Regions from separate parts of the Homo sapiens genome. Here region 2 is linked to region 1. Evidence: fine-mapped expression QTL. A gene starts in region 1. The other region holds a variant in brackets. All regions are shown on one strand. Distances are from middle to middle. Region 1 holds the start of TMPRSS6 (transmembrane serine protease 6). Region 2 overlaps TMPRSS6 (transmembrane serine protease 6).

The links. PIP is the estimated chance that this variant, and not a neighbour inherited with it, causes the effect.
Region 2: its variant is fine-mapped to the expression of TMPRSS6 in nucleus accumbens (GTEx, PIP 0.93).

What each region holds. Positions count from the first base shown.
Region 1 is chr22:37,107,394-37,112,770 of GRCh38, forward strand. It overlaps TMPRSS6 (transmembrane serine protease 6), which reads right to left and starts at 2,320. Exons shown (of 18, transcript NM_001374504.1): 1 at 2,110-2,320. RefSeq lists an enhancer at 550-1,051.
Region 2 is chr22:37,068,800-37,074,176 of GRCh38, forward strand. It overlaps TMPRSS6 (transmembrane serine protease 6), which reads right to left. Exons shown (of 18, transcript NM_001374504.1): 13 at 4,733-4,846; 14 at 2,117-2,233; 15 at 1,685-1,853; 16 at 274-545. Among named protein-coding and RNA genes, the nearest start is that of KCTD17, 20 kb to the left of the region's middle. The variant G/C (reference allele first, on the strand shown) is at 2,553.

The DNA.
Region 1 (5,377 bases):
TATAATACAACGGCTCCCCCATTCCCAGGGTCCAGCACCTTTGGAAAAGCCTGTGGCCCTACCTTCCAAATGCCCCCCAAAGCCAGCCCCTTCTTGGCCCCCCATGACTCCCACCATCATCCAGGCCACCGTCATCTGTCACCTCGACTCCTGCAATAGCCAATCACCCACCCCCCTACCCAGTGAGTTCTCACACAATGGCCACTGCGTGTTGTCACCATGTGCCCTGCCCACAAGCCTCGCACGGCTTCCATCCACCTAGAACACAGTCCCTAAAGACCCAGGGTCTCAGTTTTCCTGTCCTCTTTGCTGAATGGGAGGTTTGCTCCTTGCTGGGCCTGGGATGTTTTCCTTTCTGCTGGCCTCGTGGCTCCCTCCTTTACCTCCTCCAAAGGGTCAGATGTCACCTCTCCAGAGAGGCCTTCCCTGGGCACTCCCGTCTCTCCTGCATTTTTCTTTATAGCAATTACAGAGGCCTAAATTGCCTGATATGCAAATATGTCATTTATCTGCCTCCTCCCTGTCTGTAAGCTGCATGAGAGCAGAGTCTGGTACTCAGCGGACACTCAGTAATTGTTAAATGAATGAATGACAAGGTCCCAGCTCCTTCCTCCCTACAGAAGTCCAAGGTGCTGTGTGCATATGTGGCCTGGCCAACTTCTCCTGCCTCCTTTTTTCCCACCCTCTCTTTTCCCCGTCGCACCCCAAGGACACTGGACTTCCATTGGTGAGAAATTTTAACAATGGGATGGTAGCAAACATTTATGGATTAAGAGCAGCCAGCCGGCACCAAGAGCCCTCGTGGACCTTGAGCCCTGTCAGTGCTTGTTCACGGCCAGGCGTCCCCACACTCTTCCTTCTGCCTGGGCCCCCACCTCCCAACCTGGCCAGCTCTTATGCAGCCCCTGTCACCTCAGTTCAGACCTCACCTCTTCGCAGCTCTCCCAGAGTGCCCTAGAAGGGGCGGCTGCCCCTCGCGATGTGCAGCTTACCTGTGGGCACTCTCTCTTTGCCCCTCACATTGAACTCCTGGAAGCGGGGACTGTGCTCCAATTGCCACAGGGGCCTGAAGCAGTCCCCCAGCTCTGAGCACCATGGACCCCACCCTGGCACCTGCTCCTCACTCCCTCCTGCCCTTCTGGCCATTGGAGGGTCTCGGGTCTGCCTGCTGGAGGCTGAGCTCCTTGGGGCGGGGCCGCGACTCCCCCAGCAATGCAGATCCGGATTCAACCACTGCGTATGAACTCCTACCATGTGCCAGCCCTGTGCTGGGCAGTGCTGCAAACTCCACTGCAGCCTCCAACAGCCTGGGGTGCCTACTTTGCTGACTCTATTTAATGGCTGGGGAAACTGAGGTAGAGAGAGGTAACATGACTTACCCGAGGTCCCTCAGCCAGGGCAGAGCAGAGCAGAGCAGGGACTCTGGGCTAGGGCCATAGGGGCATCTTTCAGTGAAACCATTAGGCCCTAGAGTCCTGAGAGTGTGGGGGACTGGGTGGGGGTCCCTTCCACACATATAAACACACTCACAGACCCACAGATGTACACAGATGGAGACACGCGGAGGGATATACGCACATCTATTCATGACACAAAAATTCATAGATGCACGCCCTTCCTACACAGACACACACACGAACACACATACACATACATGCCAACTCTGAGCCTGTGAGCCCAGGGTCCTGGGCTTAAGTCAGTACATAGGTGCAATGTGGGGCTCCGGGCCTGTCTCCTACACCAGAAGGCCCAGGTGGGGTACCGGGTGTGGAGGGGGCAGCATGTCCAGTCCTGCGAGGCAGGGGTAGGGTGGCCTCTCCCTTCCTCCTGTCCCTGCCACCTGAATCCCAGGCCACCAACCACCCAGCACTGATGCTGTGCCTGTCCACACACCTGGTGTCACCCTGCGTGGTCCCTCCCCTCCCCAGCTCTGTGGGCCCCTCACCTTCTGCTCACTGATCACCCTCTGGCCGATGAGGCCCTGCAGGCCTGGCCTCGGAGCAGGGTAGGTGGCTCAGGCTGCAGGGAGCCAGGCCCAGCTCTTAGGGTGGACACTGTCACTAGGTCATTTATAGATCCCGGTCCCCTGTCCTGGAGGCCCCCGCTTACCTTTGGGAGCGGCAGATAGGTGCCGGGCCTGCACACAGGCCTCAGGAGCCTCTGTTTGTCCAGGCCAAGGCCTCCCCACCCCCACCCAGCCAGCCCAGGCTGGATCAATGGCCTAGAGCCATGACCAGGGTGTCTGGCCCTTGTCCCCTGTGGCCTGTGGCCTCAGGCTCCATGGAACTCCTCCTGCTGGGTCCTGGACAGCACTGTGACTAAGTACAGGTAAACAGGCAGGAGGTAGGAGAAGGCAGTGCCTGCCCCGCCCCATCTTCCCCCACCCCCGCATGGGCACCCCAGAGGCTGGCAGGCAGGTGCGGGAGATCTGAGCTCTCCCCCGAGGCCCGTTGCCTGGTGACATGCCTGCCTGGTTACAGCCCCTGGTCCCCGAGAGCATGAGGTAGGGACAGCCAAGGACTGGGGACTGTGCAGAGGCCGGTGCAGGTGAGTGCAGGGGCTCACAAGGGTGAGTCCAGGTGCTTACCTGGACAGGCGAGACTAAAGGAGCTGCTGGCCTGAGAGAGAGAAAAGGAGGCTGGGCCCATATACTCTGGGGACTGGAGAGGAGAAAGGGGAGGCAGGGGTGGGGTTTGATGCTATTTTCTGTTTAGCTGGGAATTATTTGAATTCCTACCTCGTTCTTTTTTTTTTTTTTTTTTTTTTTTAAGATGGAGTCTCACTCCGTCACCCAGGCTAGAGTGCAGTGGTGTGATTTCGGCTCACTGCAACCTCCGCCTCCCGGGTTCAAGCAATTCTCCTGCCTCAGCCTCCCAGGTAGCTGGGATTACAGCGCCCACCACCATGCCCGGCTAATTTTCATAATTTTAGAAGAGATGGGGTTTCACCATGTTAGCCAGGCTGGTCTCGAACTCCTGACCTCAAGTGATTCCACCCACCTCGACCTCCCAAAACGCTAGGATTACAGGCATGAGCGACCGCACGCAGCATGAATTCCTACCTGGTTCCGTAGCGCTGTGCTGTCCATGACGGTAGCCGCTGGTCACCCGTGGCTCTTGAGTCAGTCTGAACTGAGAAAAGCTGCACGGGGGAGACGCACACCAGGTTTCCAAGGCCAAGTGCAAACAGGATGTCAACCAACGCGATAACAATTTTTATATTGATTTTATGTTGAAATAACACTGGTGATCATGGGATAAATAAAATGTATTATTAAAAGCAATTTTCTTCTGGCTCTCTTGTTTTTTTTTTTTTCAGAGACAGGGTCTCATTAGGTTGCCAGGCTGGTCTGGAGCTCCTGGGCCCACATGATCCTCCTGCTTCAGCCTCCCAAGTAGCTGGGATTACAGGCGCGGGCCACCACACCCCTTGTTGCATGTGGATATTAGACAGGTTAAGTCACAAGTGTGACCTGCGTTGTTGTTCTATGGAACAGCGTTGCTGTGGAGATGGGTTTGAGCCATATGCGTGCCGAAGTGCCGGATGGGAGCCAGGGCTTTCTAGGGTGCGTGCAGGGCAGCGGGCGTCTGTCTCAGACAAGGCTGACTTTCAGCGAGTCTACATCCTGAGGCCAGAATGCGGGGTGCACGCCTGAGATGCTGTGTGCTGTGGGCATATGGGTCCCAGAGTGTGTGTGTAAGAGAGACAGTCTGGAATTTGTGTGTGTAGATTATGTATGTGTAGAATGTGCGTGTGTGTGTGTGTGTGTGTGTGTGGAGCGTAGGGATTGTGTGTGGGGTATAAGATTTGTGTGAGAGGTGTGTCTGTGAGGTTTGTATGGTGTGGGGTGGGGGGTGTGTGAAGTGTGTTGTGTGGGCATATGGACTGTGCATGTGTGTGCAGTGTGGGTGCTGGGAATGTGCAGTGTAAGGTGTGTGTGTCTTTGAGGTACGTATGGTGTGAGGTGTGTATGGAGCATGAGAGGTGTGTGCAGCTGTGTGTGTGTGTGTGTGCATGCTCACAGTATGTGTGGAATATGAGGCATGTGTTTAGTGTGAGGTGTGTGCATAGTGTGAGGTGTGTGTGTAGTGTAAGGTGTATGTAGTGTGAAGCATGTGTGGAGTGTGAAGCGTGTGTGTAGTGTGAGACGTGTGTGGAGTGTGAGGTGTGTGTGGAGCGTGAGGCATGTGTGGAGTGTGAGGCGTGTGAGTGGAGTGTGCAGCGGGTGTGAAGTGTGAGATGCTTATGGATTGGCTGGGATGGGACAGGGCCCCGCGCCCGGGCTTTGCCGTGACCGCCGGTTTTCAGCCCTACCTGGCTCCCTTTTAGTTGTAGGAACCTGGGCAGATTCCCTGACTTCTGAGCGGTGCTTCTTCCATCTGTCGAATGAAAAAAATTCGCCCCTTCTTGATGAACGGGAAACAACGTGTGCGAAGGCCCAGCACTGTGGGGGGCGCCGAGAGCGGGTTTCTCCTCTTCTCATGGTGACACGCTGGTGTGTCGGGGCCAGGTGTGCCTGTGCACTGAAGTCCAGGCAATGACAGGTGGCATGTGTGTGGTGCCTACCTGTGTGGCCCCTCACGCATGTCTCAAGCACGTAGATGCCCCATGCTCTCTGGCGTGTGCTCCCTAAGGGGGCCTGTAGCAGTAGGCAGGTACCTCCCTGACATGTGCGTGGGGGGCACCCCTGTGTCCTAAGGTGTGAAGGCCCCTGCCCATGGGGGCTGGGCATGAGCTCAGTACAGCACCATCTCCAGGCAGAGCCAGGGCTGGGCCAGGGCAGGAGGGCGCACTGTCAGGCTGGTTAGGATTCTGGGTTAGGGGGTACCTTCCCTCACCTTCTCCTGTGGCCCTCCCCAGAGTCCTGGCCCCTGCCCATGGGCCTGACCCTGACCCTGAGACCGAACACCATAGCCCTGCCCACTGTCCCTCGTCCCAGCCCCAACAACTCTGCCTCCTCCCCATAAACTCCCCTCTTCCCAGGCCCTGGGCCCCACCTTGCAAACTTCCTGAGGGACAGATGCTTGAGACAGAGCAGGGATAGTGTGTTTGTGTAGGGGGTGAAGACACCCCGATCCTAGCCTCTGTACCCCATCCTGTCCTTTGGAAGGTCAAAAGGCCCAGGCCCCCAGCCCAGGCTGCTAGCCCGACAGTCTGAAAAGCCGATCTTGCACAATCGACGTCCTCTAGACCTGGCGGCCACCTGGCCATCGATCCGACATGGCCTGGGGGGAGGGGCTGGCAATAAGCAAGCAGCAGCAAAATGCTGAGAGAGGTGTTTGAAAGCACAGACGTGGCTGGGTGCAGTGGCTTACCCCCACACCTGTAATCCCAGCACTTTGGGACGCCAAGGAGGGAGGATCCCTTCAGCCCAGGA
Region 2 (5,377 bases), 39 kb before region 1:
GTGGGCAGTGGCGTCCCAGACCTGCCCCTTTGCCCCACACATAACGCCCTTCCAGAAGGAAGGGAAGAGCTAGGAGGGGAGGGGCAGGGGCCTACAGGCCGCATTAAATGGTGGTTTTCTACCGTAAAATTCAGCCCAATTTGAATCCCAGCACTAGAGGGCCTATGGGGTGGAGCCCCGGGACCCCCAGCCCCGCCCTTCTCCAGGCCAGGTGTTACGGCGCAGATCCGCACGGTCTCCCTCCGCCTCCCGCCGCAAGTCCCCGCTGCTCACCGCCCTCGCGCAAGGCGCCCCAGCCCGTAATCCAGCAGTGCAGGCCGGGCTCGAAGAAGTGGGAGCGCGCGGGCAGGCAGACGGGGCGCACGGCGGCCGAGCGCACCACCGGGTGGTCGAGCTGCAGCAGCGCCACGTCGTAGTCATGGCTGTCCTCTTCGTGGTACGGGTGCAGGAGCAGGCGGCTCACCTTGAAGGACACCTCTCCAGGCCAGCGCGAGTTCTGCCACACCTTGCCCAGGAACACGGTCCACAGCACCGTGGAGGCCATGCTGGGGTGGGGTGGGGTGGGGTGGGGTGGGGTGAGGTGAGGTGGGAGGAAGCTGCCTCTCCCCATCCAGGGACCCTCAAGATAGCCAGATCCCCGCCCGGGACAGTGCCCTCCACACCCAGCCCTCCCTTCCCTCCCTGAAGGTCGCCTAGCTGGTGGTACAGCGTTCAGCCTTCACCCACTCGGCCTGCCTGGGTTCCACGCCCCAGCTTCATCCCTCCCTAGACATGGGTGTGCCTCTCTAAGCCTCTGCCACCTCATCTGCAAATGGGAATGGCATTTTCTACTCGAATGTTCTTGAGAGAATCCAATAAGACCGTGTATCTAAAAAATGTAGCACAGTGCCAGGCCCCCGACACAGATTTCTTTTTTCCTGTGTGCTTTACAGACCCAGGCTGCTCTGAATTCCCTGAGGCTGGTGGGTCCTAGTGGGGAGCGGGTGGGAGTTGAGCGTGGAGGAATTGGACTGCGGCAGTCAGCTGCCTGGGTGGCAGATGGGCAGCCTTCGGGTCTCTACCCTCTACCTGAGGGCAGTGGGGAGCCTGAGATGGGGTTAAAGAGAGCTAGGTGGTCAGAGCGCCCTGCGTCCCAGAGAGGATACAAAAGGGGATCCCTGTGCAGGGCCTGGGGGCGGGATCTGGAGCCCAGATCTGTCTGGGGGTGGATTGGGGGAGGTTTCAGCCCACCAAGCAGATGGGAAAGATGGCCATGAGGCCTGATGAGATGTCCCCTGGGGGCTCCCCAGCCCCACCTGCTACCTCGTGTCACACCTCGGGGAGTGTCATAGCTTATGACCAGGTTGGGCAGTTCTGTCCTTTACTGAATCCCCAGCATCTAGCACAGCCCTGGCACATAGTAGGAGCACAAGTGTTGCTGAATGAGTGAATGAGATGAATGAATGAATTACTGGCCCAACTTAAAGCAAGATACCAAAAGTAGATGGCAGAGAGGTGGAACAATGTGTCCGGGGACCCAGAAGGTCCTGGTGGAGCCAGGACTAGAACTCACATCACAGTAGCCTGTCTGGGGGGTCCACCACCCTTCCCTCTATCTGCAAAGAGCTCAGACACAGTGCACCTCCCACCGGGCCTTCCCTGCCCTTGTCTCTTACTGCCTAGGCCCCCACACCCTCCCGCTCACCTGTCCTCCTGGAAGCAGTGGGCAGCTGTTATCACCCAGCGGTCAGCGATGAGGGCCCCCCCACAGATGTGTCGACCCCGAACCTGGAGGCTGGCCTGCCATGGCCACTCACCCTCGGAGGACACAGCTCCACCAACAATGCGGCTGGAGGGGCCCTGGAGGCCACAGTCTGGGGATGGGGGCAGGTGGTGGGGTGGACAGAGGAGGAGGGGAAGGGGAGAAGCAGACAGAGAGGAAGGGCAAAGGAAAGAGATGGAGAGACAGAGAACAGGAGAATGATGGAGGGGGAGAGACCATCAGGACCCAGGCAAGGGGGCAGAGGATGAGATAGAGAGAGACCAGGGGACAACAGTGAGATTTCCCTCCAGCTTCCTGCTGTGGGCACCCCCTCCCTCCCAAGCTCCAGGGCCCCGGCAGCCAGGCAGGGCTCACCACAGTGCTCCTCATCCGAGCCGTCCCTGCAGTCGGGCCGCCCATCACACTGCGGGTTGGGCTTCTTCACGCAGCTCCGGTCCTCACACTGGAAGGTGAATGTCCCACATGGCACCCCTGGGACAGAGGGGATGGGGGCAGGGCACAGAAGGTGGGTCTCTGAGCCCCAAGGAAACCTTCCAAAGTGGGGTGCAGGAACGATGGAGCCAGAAGAGCCAGGAGGTGACTAGAGAGTCTTTTCCTGAGTCTCCTTTAGGGTCTCCTAAAAGCAGGCCATGTCCCCCCGCCCCCCACAGCCCCTCCACTCAGACTGGCCTATTGAGCACAAAGTGGTGTCTCCATTCTCAGACTGGAGATCCTGACCACAAGATCATGCCTCCCCCTCCAGTGTGGAACTTGAAGGCAGAACTGTGCCTCCACTTTTAGACCAGGGTCC[G/C]CACCTAGCCTGGCAATCTCCCAGGCTCTGGCCCTGCCCGGTTGTCCACATTTTCCTCCCTGCTCTTCACTGTAAAGAACTTTCCACTCCACCACTTGGTCTTTGCCTCTCTCCTTTCCTCCTGCCTATTTAAGTTTTAGCTCTCACCAAGGGCCAAACACCTACCTCCTCCAGGAAGCTTTTCATGTCTGACCTCCTCCCTGCCCTCCAATCTTCCTACAAGGCAGGAGAGTCACCCATCATATCCTCCTACTAACAGATGAGCCTTGGAAGGCAGGGCCTGCATCTCTGCTGTTTTATTCTCACTTCCTTACTGCACCTTGCCTATCGCTGGGTAGCCTGCAAGTGTTGGTCAGTTGGTCAGTTGGATGGGTAGATGGATGGATGGATAAATAGACCCAGACAGAAGACTGAGCAGACAAGCCAATGGGTGGAGTGGTGGTCCATTAGGGAGACTGACAGACAGCTAGAAGGTTGGATAAACGTGTGGATATAAGGACCAGTGGACAGACAGGGGGCTAGGGAGATCAGTGGATGGGTGGATGGATGGGTGGATGGATGGGTAGATGGATGGATGGATGATGGATGGGTGGATGATGGATGGATGATGGATGGATGATGGATGGATGGATGGATGGATGATGGATGGGTGCATGGATGGATGGATGGCTGACGGATGAATGGATGGATGGTGGATGGATGGATGATGGATGGTTGGATGGATGATGGATGGATGGATGATGGACAGATGATGGATGGACGGATGATGGATGGATGATGGATGGATGGATGATGGGTGAATGGATGGATGATGGATGAACGGATGATGGATGGATGGATGATGGATGAATGGATGGATGGATGATGGATGGATGGATGGATGATGGATGGATGGATGATGGATGGATGGATGATGGATGGTTGCATGGATGGATGGATGATGGATGGATGGATGATGGATGGATGGATGATGGATGAATGGATGGATGATGGATGGATGGATGGATGATGGATGGGTGCATGGATGGATGGATGATGGATCGATGGATGATGGATGGATGGATGATGGATTGATGGATTGATGGATGATGGATGGATGGATGATGGATGGATGGATGGATGGATGGATGGATGATGGATGATGGATGGATAGACGATGGACAGATGGATGATGGATGAATGGATGGATGATGGATGAATGGATGGATGATGGATGGATGGATGGATGATGGATGGATGGATGATGGATGGATGGATGGATGATGGACGATGGATGGATGGATGATGGACGGATGGATGATGGATGGATGGATGATGGATGGATGGATGATGGATGGATGGGTGATGGACGGATGGATGATGGATGGATGATGGATGGATGGATGATGGACGGATGGATGGATGGATAGATGGATGATGGATGGATGGATGATGGACGGATGGATGATGGATGGATGGATGGATGATGGATGGATGGATAGACGGATGATGGATGGATGGATGGATGATGGATGGATGATGCATGGATGATGGATGGATGAATGGATGGATGGATAGATGGATGATGTATGGATGGATGATGGACAGATGGATGATCGATGGGTGGATGACGGATGGGTGGAAGGATGATGGATGGATAGATGGATGATGGATGGATGATGGATGGATGGATGGATGATGGACGGATGGACGATGGGTGGATGGATGGATGATGGATGGATGGATGGATGGATAGACGGATGATGGATGGATGGATGATGGACGGATGGATGATGGATGGGTGGATGGGTGGGTGGGTAGATGGGTGGGTGGATGGATGGATGGATGGATGGATGGATGGAACAGTGGCCATATAGACCAGTAGTCAGCCAAACCAATAAATGGGTAGATTGACAGTTTGATGATAGGGAGATTGATGGTTGCACAGGTCAGTAGATGCATAGATAAATGGGTAGCTGTATGAATCAATGGACAGACGGTGATTGGAGACCAGAAGATGGATGGATGGATGGATGGATGGATGGATGGATGGATGGATGGATGAATGGACAGACATACAGATGTAAATACAGAGGGGTTGGTGGGTGTTGAGAGGAGAAGCTAGAAACTTTTGCTGAAGCATGTAGCAGGCCTAGACTGCCTTTGGTGTCCCTCCAGACACTCGGCTAGGCCTGCCCTACCTTCCTGGCACTGCTCTTCGTCGCTGCCGTTGAGACAATCAGGCTGCCCATCACAGACCTTGGGCAGTGAGATGCATGTGCTGTCCTCTTTGCACTGGAATGTGGCTCTGCAAACTGTGTGGGGACACAGAGAGGGGACAGGTGGGAGGAAGCCAGAGGAGCCAGCCGGGGCTTGGCGATGCCTGTAGAAGGTGTGCTGTATTGCACGTTACCAATCACAAATCTCTTTCTCTGCTACTTTATTTTTATGTCTCGCTCTTGTCACGAAGGCTGGAGTGCGATGGCATGATCTCACTGCAACCTCCCAGGTCCAAGCGATTCTCCTGCCTCAGACTCCCGAGTAGCTGAGATTAATTACAGGCTCCTGCTACCACGCCCAGCTAATTATTGTATTTTTAGTAGAGACGGGGTTTCACCATGTTGGCCAGGCTGATCTTGAACTCCTGACCTCAGGTGATCCGCTCGACTCCGCCTCCCAAAGTGCTAGGATTACAGGCATGAGCCACTGCGCCCGGCCTCTTTCTCTGCTATTTTACACCCAAAGTTTCACAGCAACCCTGTGAGATACCCCATTTCACTGGTGGAAACAGATGAGGTGACTTGTCCAAGGTCACTTGGCTGAGCCAGAACTTGAAGCCAGATGTT